Regions from separate parts of the Homo sapiens genome. Here region 2 is linked to region 1. A link means that fine-mapping ties the variant in region 1 to the expression of a gene that starts in the linked region. Tissue or cell type: whole blood. Region 1 holds a variant in brackets; the other region holds the start of a gene. All regions are shown on one strand. Distances are between the middles of the regions.

Region 1 (8,184 bases):
AATTACCCAGGGGAGGCTGCAGACACCACAGCCCAGGGCATCTCACCCAGCTGGTGTGGGATGGGGCCTGGGCATCTGTATTTTTAAAACCCACTTTGACCATGACTGAAAATCAGGGTCTCAGGGGCAAGAGGAGAAATCCACCTCCTTAAGAGGCCATGACCCCTTGGGGCCAGCCTGTGGCCCTAACAGCTCCAGAGGGTCCCTCAGGGTCTAGACTGTGGCCCTCTGAGTGAATGCCCACTCGGTACCCCCTGGTCAGGAAGGGGAAAGTGGAACCCTCCTCTTTCCAGACAAAGAGCTGGGTGTACACGGCACGTGCCAGGCCGAGGGGCTCACCAGACCCCCCCCCCAACCAGGTCCAGGTAGCCTCTAAATGGTCCCATCCTGAGCAATGACACGGTGAGGGCAGAGGGGAGCCTGCAGCGCCACTACACTTAGGCACATCCTCCTACACCCCCTTGGCCATGGGAAGGGGGACTGCTCATTGCCATGACAACCAGGCTCTGCAGCTGGGGCTGCCTCCCCTACCTAGGCCAGCCCTCTGATGCCAAGCCCATGGGTGTGGGGGAGATGAGTGACTAAGGCCGGAAATGGGGGTGAGTCACCGGGGCCTGCTCTGTCCAGAGCCTTCTGCAAACAGGCCATCAACACAGGCAGCCTGAACGCCTGACTGGGCCCCCACTTGGGCAGGCTCCCAATGGAGGGGGCCCCTACTTCTGGCCCCTTACCCTCAGCTCCCCAGGAACCTGTTGGGGGAAGGGGTGACATTCCAGGCTGCCCCGCAAACTGGCACTGCCCCCCAAACACACACCCAGTGGAAAAGCCAAACAGAAGGAGGGTGCAGTCCCAGGCGGGGCCAGGTGCTGAGTCCCTGGTTGGGTGCTTCTGTGTCCCCACTGCTCGTGCTTCTGAACCCTGGGGCAGTGAGAGGACTGGGGTGTCCAGCAGGAAGGGCAGGGCCAACAGAGGTAAGGAGGCAAGGTCAGAGGGAGGGCTCAGGGCCAGGGCAGCGATGCTGCGAGGACCGTGGCTCTCCATCCAGCCACCCAGTAGACATTTATAGGTCCTGCCAGGCCCAAGCCCACAGATGTCGCCTTGACCTTGTTCCTACCTGCTCTGAGCAGGTGCACAAGCCGCCCACCTCCTACTGTTCCTGTGGGGTTTGTATCTACTTGAACCATCTCTGCCTTGATCCTGTAGCTGCCGGGCCAGTGACTGAGTGGGTGGAGACAATCACAAAATAATAGCAGTGAAAATGAGGGCAAACGAAAGCCAAAAGGTGGAAACAACCCGAGTGCTCATCAACAGATGAGCCTGTAATCCCAGCACTTTGGGAGGCCAAGGCAGGCGGGTCATTTGAGGTCAGGAGTTCAAGACCAGCCTGACCAATATGGTGAAACCCTGTCTCTACAAAAAATAAAAAACATTAGCTGGGCATGGTGGCTCACACCTGTAATCCCAGTACTTTGGAAGGCCGAAGCAGGCAGATCATTTGAGGTCAGGAGTTCAAGACCAGCCTGACCAACATGGTGAAACCCTGTTTCTGTTTAAAATATAAAACATCAGCCGGGCATGGTGGCTCACACCTGCAATCCCAGCACTTTGGGAGGCTGAGGCATGTGGATCATTTGAGGCAAGGAGTTCGAGACCAGCCTAACCAACATGGTGAAACCCTGTCTCTACTAAAAACATAAAACATTAGCTGGGCATGGTGGCTCACACCTGTAATCCCAGCACTTTGGGAGGCCGAGGCAGGCAGATCATTTGAGGTCAGGAGTTCGAGACCAGCCTGACCAACATGGTGAAACCCCGTCTCTACTAAAAATAGAAAACAGCCGAGCATGGTGGCCCACGCCTGTAATCTCAGCTACTAGGGAGGCTAAGGCAGGAGAATGCTTGAACCCGGAAGGCAGAGGTTGCAGCGAGCTGAGATTGTGCCACTATACTCCAGCCTGGGAGACATGGCGAGACTCCGTCTCAAAAAACAAAACAAAACAAAACAAACAAAAAACATATGAGACAGATGAGTGCATAAGCAAAATATGGTTTATCGATACAATGGAATAGTATTCAGCCATGTAAAGGAGTGAAATCTGATGCACGCTACAACATGGATGAACCTTGAAAACATCATGCTAAGTGAAAGAAGCCAGACCCCAAACGACAAATACTATGTGATTCCACCCATGTGAGGTACCCAGAGCGGCAAGTTCATAGAGACAGAAAGTAGCTGGGAGGGTACCAGGGGCTGGAATGGGGAGGTAATGGAGAGTTATTGCTTGATGGTTAGTTTCTGTTTGGATGATGAAAAAGTTTTGGAAATAGGCAACAGTAATAGTTGCACAACAGCGTGAATGTAATTAATGCCAGTGAATTAACCACTTAAAAATGGTTGCAATGGCCAATTTCATTATATATATTTTACCATATTTTTTTTTTTTTTTTGAGATGGAGTCTCGCTCTGTTGCCCAGGCTGGAGTGCAGTAGCACGAACTTGGCTCACTGCAAGCTCCGCCTCCTGGGTTCACGCCATTCTCCTGCCTCAGCCTCCTGAGTAGCTAGGACTGCAGGTGCCCGCCACCACACCTGGCTAATTTTTTTTGTATTTTTTAGTAGAGACGGGGTTTCACCGTGTTAGCCAGGATGGTCTTGATATCCTGACCTCATGATCCGCCCACCTCAGCCTCCCAAAGTGCTGGGATTACAGGCATGAGCCACTGCGCCCAGCCTATTTTTTTTTTTTTTTTTTTTTTTTGAGACAGCATCTCGTTCTGTTGCCCAGGCTGGAGTGCAGTGGCACGATCTCAGCTCACTGCAACCCCCACCTCCCGGGTTCAAGTGATTTCCGGCTAATTGTTGTATTTTTAGTAGAGATGGGGTTTCACCATGTTGGCCAGGCTGGTCTCGAACTCCTGACTTCAAGTGATCCACTCGCCTCGGCCTCCCAAAGTGCTAGGATTACAGGCGTGAGCCACAGCACCCGGCCTATTTTACCATAATTTTTAAAGTTTAATGATATAATATGCTGGAAACCATTGTATACTTTTTTTTTTTTTCTGAGACAGGGTCTTGCTCTGTAGCCAGGCTGGGGTGCAGTGGCACAATAATGGCTCACTGCAGCAGCCTCAAACTCTTGGGCTCAAACAATCCACCTACCTCAGCCTCCCGAGGAGCTGGGACTACAGACTTGCACTACCAGGCCTGAATAATTTTTAAATTTTTTTGTAGAGTTGGGGTCACACTATGATGCCCAGGCTGGTCTCAAACTCCTGGCCTCAAGTGATTCAACAGCCTCTGCCTCCCAAAGTGCTCCGCACTGTGTACTTTCAATGGATAAATTATAAGGTATGTGAATGAATATCTCAAAAATGCTGTTAAAGAAGCAGACAGCCAGGTCGGCACCCGGTGGGGCTGAAATGTGGTGGAAGTTGGGGGAGTCTGACCCCAAAGGGCTGTGTGTGGCCACAACAGGCACAAGCACATGGAGCCTGGTTTAGGCCTGGCCCATAGTGGGTGCTCAGTAAATGATCACAAAGAAGGAAACTGAGGCAGGGCTCTGGGGAAGTGAGTTAGTGCCCCGGGTGGAAAGAGGCACCCACGTGTTCTG[A/T]TCCATCTGTCCCCTTAGTCCCATGGCCTCCAGGGGGTACCTTCCCCAGACCAGGACAGCGGCACCTCCCGCCCAATTCAGTGTTGTCAGCTGGGGCTCAGACACCTTCCCAAGCTGCCCGCTTATCTCAGCCTCAGAGAGGGGTCAGGCGTGCTGAGGAAAGGGCAGGCCCAGTTTCTCAACTTCCACCTGCAGCCCGGGCGGTTTGGGGCGTGGATGGTCTGGGGCCTGAGCAGTTCTGTAAGGGTAGCCAAGACCAGGGACCAGAAACTACCTCATGTCAGAGCTGGAAGGGGCCCCAAATCCCACCCTTTTCACAGGTGCACCACTGAGCTCAGAGAGGACAAGCCCTGTGTGCTGAAGATAGTGCAGGTCGCCCCCAGGCAGGGATGGATATAGAGGCTGTGCAGTGGAGACAGGCGCCAGGGCAGCTGGCAGGGAGGGTGGGAGTTCTGTCCAGGCGTGTCCCGGAGGGGTGGCATGCAGGCAGGGCAGGGTGTGTGTGGGGTGTATGCATAGGTGGGGAGTGTGTGTGTGCGTGAGACAGTGTGTGTGTATGAGTGTGAGTGAATGTGTGTGAGTGTGTGCGTGTGAGTGTGTGTGTGCGTACAGGGTTCATGGGTGGAGAGGGTGGAAGGTGGGCCAGCCAGGGGGAAATAGGCGGCTCGCACTCGGGAGGTGCACACAGGGCTCCACAGGAATGCGAGTCATGCAGGGAACTGCTACAGCCAGCAGCTGTGGCCAAGGCCGAGCAGGGAGTAGAGAAAGAGCGTTTCCAGGTGGCCGGGGCTGTGAGGCTCTAGGAGAGGACACACAATGGCGAGGGGTCCCAAAGACCCTCCCACCCTAATCCTTTAGCCAGCAGGCAGCCTCCACACCTCAGGCACCAAGCATGTCCCCCGTGACCCAGCTGGCTGCCACACCCAGGGCTGGAGCCTGGCGGGGGCTCGGTGCCAGAGTCCATAACATTCCTTGGAGAATCAACAAAGTCAGGAAAGGCAGGCGGTGCTTCCCTTGGCCCCGGGTGGGACACAGCAAGTGGGGGTGGCAGCACCCTTTTCTCTGGGGCCAGAACAGGCATGAAACCTGGTTGGGTGCGGAAGTCAGGGTAGGGGACAGGGAAAGATGTGAGGGGGACCACAGGGCCTGGCAGAGCCAGCCCCCTAGTCCCACCTGGCATGCCCCTGCTTAGACTGGAGGGCCACCCAGCTTACCCACCACCCAGGCCAGGCACCTGCCAGGGCTGGGGGTTGTTCTGAAGACCCTCACCTGCCAAGTCACCCACAGCAGTCCCACTCACCCTGCGGAAGACATCCCAGGCAGGCCATGGGCCGAGCCCTCTCGCTCAGGGGCACTTGGTAGTGTGTGTAGGCTGGGGAGGCAAGGGGGCAGGATTCTGCCCACTCAGGCCTCTGCCCATGGGGAGGATGAGGGGCAGGGGCGGAGCATCAGGGCACAGGCACACACGGGGCTGTGGGGACACAGGGTGGCCAGAGAAAATCCAGGACACCCGTTAAATGTGAAATTCAGATAAAGAATAATTTTTTAGTATAAATACATTCCATATTCCGCATTTAGCGGAATTCCAAACTTAACCGGGTGTTCTGTATTTTATTTGGCAGCCCTGTGAGGACGCTCCTGGGGGCTGGCAGGGCCCCCATGGGAGAGGAGCGGCCAGGAGGCCCCCTGCAGGTATCAGCTTCTCTATCAGTCACTGTGTGACAAGCACGGACTCTGGGCCACACTGCCTGGGTTCAAATTTTCTCTCAGCTACTTCCCAGCTTTGAACCCTAGGCAAGTTACCAAATCTCTCTGAGTCTTAGTTTCCTCATCTGTAAGAGAAGGCTACTGGTACCACCTACCTCATATTAGTGTGAGCATTACATGAGATAATATGCGAAAAGCGCCTGGGACAGTGACAAAATTGTTCATTAGTATTCATCAGGCTAGCCAAGAATGGTGGCTTACACCTGTAATCCCAGCACTTTGGGAATCCAAGGCAGGAGGATTCTTTTAGCCCAGGAGTTCAAGACCAGCCTGGACAACACAGTGAGACCCCAACTCTACAAAAAACAGAAACAAAATTAGCTGGATGTGGTGGTACCCAGTCTCCCAGTCTCCTGAGTCCCAGCTACTTGGGAGACTGAGGTGGGAGGATCACTTGAGGTCAGGAATTTGAGGTTGCAGTGAGCCATGATCATGCCACTGCACTCCAGCCTGGGTGACAGAATGAGACCCTGTCTCATAAACAACTAACAACAACAGCAACAACAAAAAGTATTCACTGGGAGCCATCATGGAAAACTAGGCTCTGGCAGCAGGCAGGCATGTGGCCTTGGGCGGTGATTTCACCCCTCCGCCTTGAGCTTCCCGTCTGTAATGTGACATGAGGACAGCACCTCCCGCACAGGGATGCCTGAGGATTAAGCAGGATCAGGTCTGATGCAAGCTCAGCACAGTGCCTCACGCATGGCGGGTGCTCACTGGGCTCTAGCGCTCCTCTCTCTTCAATGATTCCCTGCAAGTCCGCAGCCCAGCCCAGGAGCGGGGGACTGGAGGGGGGACAAAGGACTCCCACTCACTGTGGGGGTGTTTTCTTCCTCCTTCCCCGCTCATCTGGGTCTCCCTAGTGTGGCCCTAAAGGATTTTCCTTCCTCAGGCCCCTCTAAGCCACTCCCTGCCCTAGTCCCTTGACCTGATTTGATATAAAATCTATTCTCTGTTAGGCTAAGGGGTGTGGTGATGGCAGGGGCAGAGCGAGGCGGGGGAGGCTACCTGGGTGACAGGCCTAGGCCTTGGCCTCTGATGGCCCAAGGGGCTGGGCCCCAAGACTGGGTTTCCTTCTCCACCCTGTCCCTGGACTCCCTATGGCCTGGGGAAGGGACATTCCCAACAGACTCGGACTCAACATTCCTCTCTCTGCAGTCACTCAGCAGGACAGGGCAGTGGTGAGGAATGAGGGTGACCTAGATGACATTCTGATATCTATGTAGTTCCCGAGAGTGTCACCTTGATGAGGTGCCCAGAGCTCCCGTGCAGCCTTACTCAGCTGATGAGTACCGAGGCCCGGGCTCAGCTGTAATTATTTGTCTGCATGTGACTCTGCCCACTAAACTGTGCACTCCCTGAGGGCAAAGCTCTGTGCTACTCATCTCTGTAGCCCCAGCCCCTGGCACAGCACCCTGGCCCACTAATGGCGCTCAGCAAACGTGTGGGATGAAGAGGCCAATGGGCATGGGGCCTCCCCTCAGCCCTTCCGCGGCACCCGTGACCCTGCCAGGGCTGACTCCCAGGGCTGCCCTCAGCCATCCCCAAACCACACCATTTCTTAGCCCAGAGAATGACACCTGTCGATCACAGAGTCCAGCCCAGTCTATCTCCTGGGAGTTCTGGGGTCCATCCTGGGTGTCCCCCAAGTCTGGTCCCCACCCCTTGCCCAACTAACTCCTCAGCCTCCCTCCTTGGGTCTCCCTGTTTCGCCCCTGCCTTCATCCAACCTGCCCCCCACTCTCCACACTCACTCCTGCCCAAGCCCTTTCTGGGGCTCCTGATGCCCTCCAGATAAAGTCCATGACTCTCCAGGGAGGGCCTGGAGGAGCTCCTCCCACCCCCAGCCTCTCCCCTTTGCCACTCCCGTCTTCCTCAGCTGGGGCCAGCCAGGGCCTGCTGGCTCCCCAGCCCCTCATGTGCTGCCCCCTGTTCCCCCACCCCCAAGGTCCTGTTCCTTTGTTTCACTGTCTGATCTCCCTGCTGGAACCTCAGCTCTCTAATGCAAGAGCCCCAGGGTGGAGCATACCATAGGCACTCCACAAGTGCTTGTACCATAGTACCATACCATGGGCACCGCATAAGTGCTTGTCCAATGCATGCACAGTTGAATGGATGGCAGGGTAGAGATGGTGTCCTATGTCTCAGTAACCAGAGTGCCAGGCACAGCGCCCAGACATAGTCAGCGCTCAGGTGGAATGAGTCGAGGTAACAAGAAGGCAAAACTGGCAATCAGGACCCCTGAATTCTGCCCCAAGTTCTACACGGGGTCCCTGGCAGCCTTGTCCTTCTGTTCCGGAGTTCCACACCTAGCCTCTCCATCACTGACTATTCTACCAATGGCAGGTCCAACGCAGCACTTCAGTGGCGCGGTCCTTTCCACGTCAGACAACATTCTCGCACACACCCTCTCATTCAAGCCCTCCACTGCCCTGCGGGTCCCACTTTTCCCAGACTCTGAGAGGGTACCAGGGCCCATGTGGTGGGGCACCACCGGGGTGCCAGTCACACTTTGCCCTTTGTTGGCTGTGTGGTCATAGGCAAATTCCTTGCCGTCTCTGAGTCAGTTTCCTCACTTGTGAAATGAGGATTCACCTCCCACCTAGGAAGTCGAGGAAGATTGCAAGACACCACCTGTGTAACCCACCCAGTGCCAGCTGCCTCTGTGATGTTCCAATGAGCCACAGTTACATTCCTTCTCCACGACTGACTTCCCCAAATCTGAGGTGAGAGCCTTGGCTGTCGGACGTAGGCTGTTAGACCAGTCCTGCCAGAGCAGTGTGGCTGTGGCCGCCTCTGTGGGGCCG
Region 2 (8,148 bases), 20 kb after region 1:
GCTCGCTTTCCTCCCCTGCCGGCCCCCTCCGCCCCCACACACACTCGGGACGTCTTCATTGAAGATTCACTTACAAAGGAATGTTTCACTAAATAAAAGAAAACCAGAATCTTCTGCTGTCTGGTCCCCTACGGAGGGAGCGGGGAGCGGGGCCCGGCGCGAGCGAGGCACAAGTCCCTTTCCTGCTCCCCACCCAATGCCCCCCTGATGGCCCTGAAAGAAGCCAGCGGTTGGTGTTTCTGAATGGGGAATATTTTCCCTCCTCCCCGGGCAAGCGAAGGGAAAACAGGCCTCTGTGTGGAGGGGAGAGGGAGGGGAACCAAGGGTGGCCCGGGCTGGGAGCGGGGCGCCCTTGGGAAGGCGGGGCCAATGCGGGGGGCCGAGGGCGCGGCCCAGCCCGCCGCCCCGTCGGGGACGCGGGGTCCGAGCGAGCTGGGGGTGGCGGGGAGGAGCGGAGCACGGCTGGGCGGGGCCGAGGAGCTGGTTTGGCCCCCGCCCAAAGCGGACCGCGGCTGCTCCAGCTCCGCGCCCCGGGCGTAGAGATGGGGTTCCGAGCCCCCGGCCCCAGAAATGTCCGCTGCCCCCTCCTCAGCTGCCTCAGTTCCCGGTGCCCCACCTTGACCTCCGGGCCTGGGCCTTCCCAGGGGATTTTCTGGGAGGCCAAGGCCCAGCGAGAGCCTCGTCCTCGCCCCGCCCTGAGTAGGGAGCAGGGCCCTGCGCGCCTGGAAGCCCCTGTCGGGGTGGGCCGAGCGCCCGCGTGCAGTCGCCGTCGGGGGGTACGGGCCAGAAGCCTTGGCCTCCCTCTGTCCAGCACAAGCCCTGTCGTCCGTGGGCCGTCTTGGCTCAAGCCTCGGTCCGGCCTGTATTCAGTGGCGAAACTGGCCGCTCTGAGGGCCGCCTGGTGCCAGCGCCTCCAAGTCCACTGGCCAGGGTCTCTACCGCAGTCCCCCGCCGCTGCCACCACCTGGGCCCTAGGACCTTCCTACCCCTGGGTAAGGAAGAGGCAGTTCTGAAGGCCCCTGGCTGAGATCCTTAAACTCCTGAGTTCCCTGTCAGCCTCTAGTCTCGACCACCGTCCCAGGCTTCGCCATCATTGGCCCCACTGGAAGCCACAGTCACTCTTTAGTCGTCAGTCCTCTCAAAGCCGGGAAGGCATCCCTGAGGCTAGACGGTGCGCTCTGCACCTGCACGGCTCAGCCCAGGGTCACAAGCACAGGCTGAATAGCCCCTGTGATAAGGCTGGACTGCAGCAAGCAGGACAGACAACAGCAGGGCCACCTTGGTGGGGGATGCAGGCCTGGAGCTGAAGCCAGCTCCACCACTTGCACAGTAGCTGTGGAACTTGGGTAAGATATTTTTTTTTTTTTTTTTTTTTTGAGACCGAGTCTCGCTTTGTTGTCAGGCTGGAGTGCAGTGGCGCGATCTCGGCTCATTGCAACCTCCGCCTCCCAGATTCAAGCGATTCTCCTGCCTCAGCCTCCCGGAAGTAGCTGGGACTACAGGCGGGGGCCACCACGCCCGGCTAATTTTTTGTATTTTTAGTAGAGATGGGGTTTCACCATGTTAGCCAGGATGGTCTCGATCTCCTGACCTCGTGATCCGCCCACCTCGGCCTCCCAAAGTGCTAGGATTACAGGCGTGAGCCACCGCGCCCGGCCCCCTTGGGGAAGATTCTTAACTGCTCTGGCCTTGGGTGGCCTCTTTTGTGAAATAGAGTTGATCTCTTTTTCATAAGGCAGTCCTGGGGTTTACCAGTGATGGGGCATGTTAAATGCCTGGCAAAGGGTTAGAACCCAGCTAACAGTAAGGTTGCCTGGCCCCTTGACAGAATTCTAGAATTCCACAACCTATTCGTCAGTCCACCTCTCCCCCAATAGAACACGAGACCATACAGTGGAGCCCAGTCCAGGACACTGAGGCTAGGCTCAGCAGTGCCTTCCAAATGCCCTGACTGGGGGTACCCCAGAATCCTCTGGAGTCTGAAGATGGGGTAACAATTTGGAGGTCTCTGTGATAACTCTCTGTGATAACCAAGTTATCTGCAAAATCCCTTTTTCCTCCAGGAGTGCTCTGAGGGGCAGTTCTTGCTCTCAGGAAGCCTCCTAAGGGATGAAGCCACACGGAGTGGCGAACTTTTCAGGTGGACCCGAATTCTTGGAAGCCCAGAGAAAACAAATGAAGGTGTTCATTTTCAGAACATATAGCTGTGCCCAGAGGCCCGCGTGCTTGCGGCTCCCCTTAGAGGCATCTACATTGGCCATGCCCATCACCACTGGCCCCCACCCCCGATATCTCACACTGCCCAGAGCCACCGAAGTCCCAGACTAGCCCTTTCCTGGCACATGATGCTTGGGCTTCCTAAAATGCCCCTCTTCGTGCCACTTTGCCTGAAAGCTCTTCATCCTTCAGAGCCAGCCAGGAAGTCACTTGCTCCTGACACTTGTCCATAATTCCCAGCTCCCATGCACTCGGCTCATCAGCTCCCACCAGGATTTCCCTCACTTGCCATTTAGGCTGGCTGTGGTCTGATGGCCTCTCCACAGTCCAGGAGCAACTTGAAGGCAAGAATGGCATCCCACCCCTCTTTGTACCCTCCTGTTTGCCAAGTGATATAGGGGCTGAATAAGGTTGAAGTTGTTGGGAATAAAAAGAACGAAATCCAGAGTATTCCCCGATTTTAAGAAAAAATGGGTTTTGTGTTTGTGACAGAAAGAAAAATGGCACGGGGGGGGTCACAAAGACCAGCGCTCTAGCCAGAACTGCCCCATGGTTGTCATGTGACCTTGGACAAGTCACTTATTTTCCAGTGTCTTAGAGATGCCTTATCTGTAAAATGGAGACACTCATTCCTATCGTGTCTAACTTGCCAGGCTGTGGTGAGGTCACATGGCTCTGTGCGTAAAAGGTACACAGTGCAAACGTGCTGGAATGTCAGGGATGCTATTAAGGAAGCAATAAGAAGAAAGGGTCACTGGGTGTGTGGCGAAGGAGAAGTGGAAAGGGCGCCAAGATTTTAGGCCTCAGTGACTGGTATGGAGGGTTCTCTGGGTCCTCTCAGTCCCTGTTTATGGAGGGCTGGGGGCTTGGGTCTAGAGAATTTCTCTCTGAGAAACTACGCCCCCGGGGGAATCGGCCCCCCCAGCCCTGCGCCAGAATCCCCTGCAGCAAGTTTCGGAGCAAGGCCTCCTCCATGCTTCCCTCCCAGTCTTGCCCAGCGCCCACTGATGAGGAAGGGCCTCTGCGGGTGAGACCTGCTTCCCTCTCGGATAGCCAGGGCTGATGATTTCAACTCATTAATCATTCCGAACTCTTCCCAACAAACAGCCTCATGGCTGTCCCGGACCTCCTCTGTCCCGGCTCAGGAAATGATCTCGGTCGGAAGTGAAAAGACCAAATCGGCCCCAGGAGGCCATTTTCTTCGACAGAAGCTGAGGCGTGGGGGCGTGGCCTTCCCCCGCTTCCCCCTCCACTCCCCCGCCCGCCCCCGGCCCCGGCTTTCCGATCTCGGCCCAGGGAAGAGCCTTGGTCGCGAATCACCAGTTTGCATTTGCCCCTGGGGCGGGGGCGGCTTTCTGAGACCAGGCTGGGGCTGGGACTCCGCCACCTTCAGCTAAGGGTACCGAGGTCAGTCCGGGAGTCGCGTCACCGGGACTCGAACCCGCCTCTTCGTCTTCCGAGGCCTAGTGCGAGCCTGCGGCGCTAAACGCAGTCACACTGTCCCTTTAAGGCGGCACTTTTTATTCTTCATTTGTTTACTTCTTCATGCGCTCTTCGGTCTTTACAAAATGTGCTCGCGATATCCTTCCGCAAGTGTCAGTCTCAGGCACTCACCACCCGCCTTGAAGCCATTTCTATAATCTTAAGACTCGCGAGTTAGCAGCCGTGGGCCGACGTCTCTCTTTATAGGATTTAATTCTTTTACATTTTAGGGACTACTTTTTAGGAATAAACCATTCTTGCGTTAGTTAATAAAGGTTCATAACCTTCGGAACCCCTCCGCTGAGAACAAAATACGATAATAGCCTTTATAACGCACCTTTTCATAAAAATATTCTGTGAGGACTCTCATAGGCCATCGAATCTTCTCGTATTCCTGAAACAGAATGGTACGGTCCAGAACCCGCCCCATCTTCTCTGCGATTGGCCGTCCTTCCTCAGCGAGTCGTGTGATTTTTCACCAATGGCCGCTCGCGTTTCTTTAGCGAGGTCTAAGCGATGGAAGGTGGCGGCCAGGGAGACGCCCCCTACGCGTCCTGGGATTGGCTACGTCGCACGGCGCGCGAGGGCGGCGGGCCCGAAAGATAAGAACTACGACTCCCGGCGCCCCGCAAAGGGAACTCCGTTACGCATGCGCACGGGCGGGGCGAAAAAGCTTCTATATAAAAGGGGCGCAGAGGACTGGGAGACAGCAGTTGGAAGTTGGCAGGTGGAGAGGCAGGTTGGGAGGGAAAGTCGGGGGAGGACGCGGAAGAGGAGCTGTGGGAAGGGGGAGGAGGGAGGGAGGAAAAGAGGAGGAGGCGGAGGAGAACTGAGCAGAGCAGAGCATCGAGCCAAAGGGGAGATGAGTTTGTCTGTCCTCTGCTGAGGCTACGGCCGGGCCTAGGGAACTGGGAGCTTGGGTGGAAGCGACACCCGTGGAAGTGGGAGGAGGTGGCGCCGGGACTTTAACCCCTTGTGGGCTCTGCGGCAGGGGATTTAACCCTTTGTGGATCTGGCCCCTCGGAGGCAGCGTCATCGGTAGTTTTAACCCCTTCGGGGCTGGGTTTCACGCACTGGACTTACCCTCATCACCTTGCTCACCAACTCCTTTATTGGGGTGCTCCGCTTGGAGGTTTGAGGCCCACCTCCGCCCATTACGTACTGTTCCTGCCGCTGCACCCCCTTGGACCCGCTAGCTGGCCGCACTGTGGGCGCTTAACCCTTTACTGACTTGAGCTCCCCAGATTGCAGTTGGAGTTTGCTGATAGAAGGACTAGCTAAAGGCGTCACTGCAGGAATTACAAACTGAAGAGGACTCTGTTGGACTGTTTTTTTTTTCTTTTTCTTTTTTTTAAGAAAAACCCATTTTTTTCCTTAAGGACTTACTAGCCAAAATTTCTTAAACTTCGAGGACTCTACTAGCCATGGCCGAGCCATTCTTGTCAGAATATCAACACCAGCCTCAAACTAGCAACTGTACAGGTGCTGCTGCTGTCCAGGAAGAGCTGAACCCTGAGCGCCCCCCAGGCGCGGAGGAGCGGGTGCCCGAGGAGGACAGTAGGTGGCAATCGAGAGCGTTCCCCCAGTTGGGTGGCCGTCCGGGGCCGGAGGGGGAAGGGAGCCTGGAATCCCAACCACCTCCCTTGCAGACCCAGGCCTGTCCAGAATCTAGCTGCCTGAGAGAGGGCGAGAAGGGCCAGAATGGGGACGACTCGTCCGCTGGCGGCGACTTCCCGCCGCCGGCAGAAGTGGAACCGACGCCCGAGGCCGAGCTGCTCGCCCAGCCTTGTCATGACTCCGAGGCCAGTAAGTTGGGGGCTCCTGCCGCAGGGGGCGAAGAGGAGTGGGGACAGCAGCAGAGACAGCTGGGGAAGAAAAAACATAGGAGACGCCCGTCCAAGAAGAAGCGGCATTGGAAACCGTACTACAAGCTGACCTGGGAAGAGAAGAAAAAGTTCGACGAGAAACAGAGCCTTCGAGCTTCAAGGATCCGAGCCGAGATGTTCGCCAAGGGCCAGCCGGTCGCGCCCTATAACACCACGCAGTTCCTCATGGATGATCACGACCAGGAGGAGCCGGATCTCAAAACCGGCCTGTACTCCAAGCGGGCCGCCGCCAAATCCGACGACACCAGCGATGACGACTTCATGGAAGAAGGGGGTGAGGAGGATGGGGGCAGCGATGGGATGGGAGGGGACGGCAGCGAGTTTCTGCAGCGGGACTTCTCGGAGACGTACGAGCGGTACCACACGGAGAGCCTGCAGAACATGAGCAAGCAGGAGCTCATCAAGGAGTACCTGGAACTGGAGAAGTGCCTCTCGCGCATGGAGGACGAGAACAACCGGCTGCGGCTGGAGAGCAAGCGGCTGGGTGGCGACGACGCGCGTGTGCGGGAGCTGGAGCTGGAGCTGGACCGGCTGCGCGCCGAGAACCTCCAGCTGCTGACCGAGAACGAACTGCACCGGCAGCAGGAGCGAGCGCCGCTTTCCAAGTTTGGAGACTAGACTGAAACTTTTTTGGGGGAGGGGGCAAAGGGGACTTTTTACAGTGATGGAATGTAACATTATATACATGTGTATATAAGACAGTGGACCTTTTTATGACACATAATCAGAAGAGAAATCCCCCTGGCTTTGGTTTCGTAAATTTAGCTATATGTAGCTTGCGTGCTTTCTCCTGTTCTTTTAATTATGTGAAACTGAAGAGTTGCTTTTCTTGTTTTCCTTTTTAGAAGTTTTTTTCCTTAATGTGAAAGTAATTTGACCAAGTTATAATGCATTTTTGTTTTTAACAAATCCCCTCCTTAAACGGAGCTATAAGGTGGCCAAATCTGAGAACAATTAAATTCATTTTAGTTATAATAAATTTAATATTTGTAAATGTAACATAGTTTCAGTGTGATTTCTAGAGCTAATTCAAAATAGTATTGATATATTTTATGTGACTGCATTTTTGGGGAGGGGTACCGAAATCGTTAAATTTGTCAGTTTGCAAAAATATCAATCTTTAATGGGAGAATTTTCAATTTGCCAATTTTTTCCTTGAATGGGTTTAAGTATGCTACAATATACAGTTCAGGCAAAATTTAAGATGTAATTATCTTCAATACTTAAGTGTGCTTGCTTTCTAGTGCCTTGGTTTTCTTTCTTGATGCTGGAAAAATAAACAAACCGGTATTGAGTGTTTAGGCGAGTGGAAAGTGGCTACAATCCAAAATTTTAAATTTAACTCTGCCTCGGCCATTCAAAAGTCTAATAACAAAAAATGTAAACCTAATTTGGCAGTTTGTTAGGTTAGACAACTGACAGCCTCATTTCATTCCTACAAGTTGGTTTTCAGTAATCTCTTCCTTCCCCCCAGTAAGGCTGGAAGAGGCTCTTGGCAAACTTCTTAGTGCAAGCAATGGTTAGATTAATTTGTGAGGCAGCTCTTTAAGACGTTCAGAGGTAAGAAATACTGGATTTATAAAGCAAATGGCTGTTTGGGGGATTCCAAGGATTTACCTAATTGTCCAATTCTACGTGCTCTCTATACCAAAACAAAAAAAAAAAGCTATCCACCTTTCCATGTGGGTCAAACTAAAATTAGAAATGTCCCCTCACTGCAGATCAAATGTAAAGCTTCCAGTTAAGGAGCTAAATGAGGTCCTCAGCTGAATGAGGAACCCTGTACATCCCCTTGCACAGCCCTATTCTAAATCGCTTAAACTATGCTGATAGCTGCTTAGGTTCTTGAGTAGTTCTGCTCTTAAACGTAGGGAGGCCCTGAGAACTAAATTTTGCCCCAAAATAAAAACAGAAATTATGAGATTGCCTCCTGTCATTTTGGTTAACCCAGTCCTTCACCTGCCCTGTGTCAGTGTCTTCTGAGGGCAATTGCGTTGCTCAAATCACTAGCACAGAGGTTCCTTAATTTGGGGCCTTAGAAACCATTGTGGGCCTTGGGGTCCATGAACCCCATGAAATTATTTGTAGACTTGTATGTACATTTTTCTGGGGAGAAGGTTCAAGAGATTCATAAGATTGTCAAACTCCTTGAAGGTTCAGAACCTCTGCAGGGAAGGGGGAAGAAAACCCTCCCATTAGGAAGCATGCTTTTGCAGTTAAATGGCGATGGTGGAGGTGATAGGGACTTCAAGAGTAAAATGCACCTTGTATTGCATAAGAAGCATACACAAATCAATAAATCAAGGGAGATTATACCAGTAGGACTGAATCAGGGCCTTCAAAGCTGGACTGAGTTGGTCCTGTTCTGGCACATATGGTCCACTGGAGACAATGTATGATTGAGTTTTTCTTTGGTCTAAAAATTATATTAAACATTTATTTTGAAATAGTTTTCTTCGTGTTTTTTTCTTCTGCTATGACGTCATGCAGCAGCCCCAGAAAAACAGCTGCTTGGAAAGGCAGCAACAGTGCCCTCTGGCTTTACAGTGCAGAGCTGAAGCCT

What was found. PIP is the estimated chance that this variant, and not a neighbour inherited with it, causes the effect.
Region 2: HEXIM1 starts here. The variant in region 1 is fine-mapped to the expression of HEXIM1 in whole blood (INTERVAL, PIP above 0.99).

What each region holds. Positions count from the first base shown.
Region 1 is chr17:45,123,614-45,131,797 of GRCh38, forward strand. The region is part of intron 1 of PLCD3 (phospholipase C delta 3); the gene reads right to left. It also overlaps a transcript of ACBD4 not described here. Among named protein-coding and RNA genes, the nearest start is that of PLCD3, 4.8 kb to the right of the region's middle. The variant A/T (reference allele first, on the strand shown) is at 3,611.
Region 2 is chr17:45,144,068-45,152,215 of GRCh38, forward strand. HEXIM1 (HEXIM P-TEFb complex subunit 1) reads left to right here and starts at 4,408. Exons shown (of 1, transcript NM_006460.3): 1 at 4,408-8,032. The coding sequence starts at 5,124. The coding sequence ends at 6,203. HEXIM2-AS1 (HEXIM2 antisense RNA 1) reads right to left here. Exons shown (of 3, transcript NR_186789.1): 3 at 5,595-6,852. ACBD4 (acyl-CoA binding domain containing 4) reads left to right here. Exons shown (of 10, transcript NM_001135705.3): 10 at 1-109. RefSeq lists enhancers at 1-330, 1,053-1,773, 3,511-4,393, 4,797-4,846, 4,897-4,946 and 3 more and a silencer at 256-495.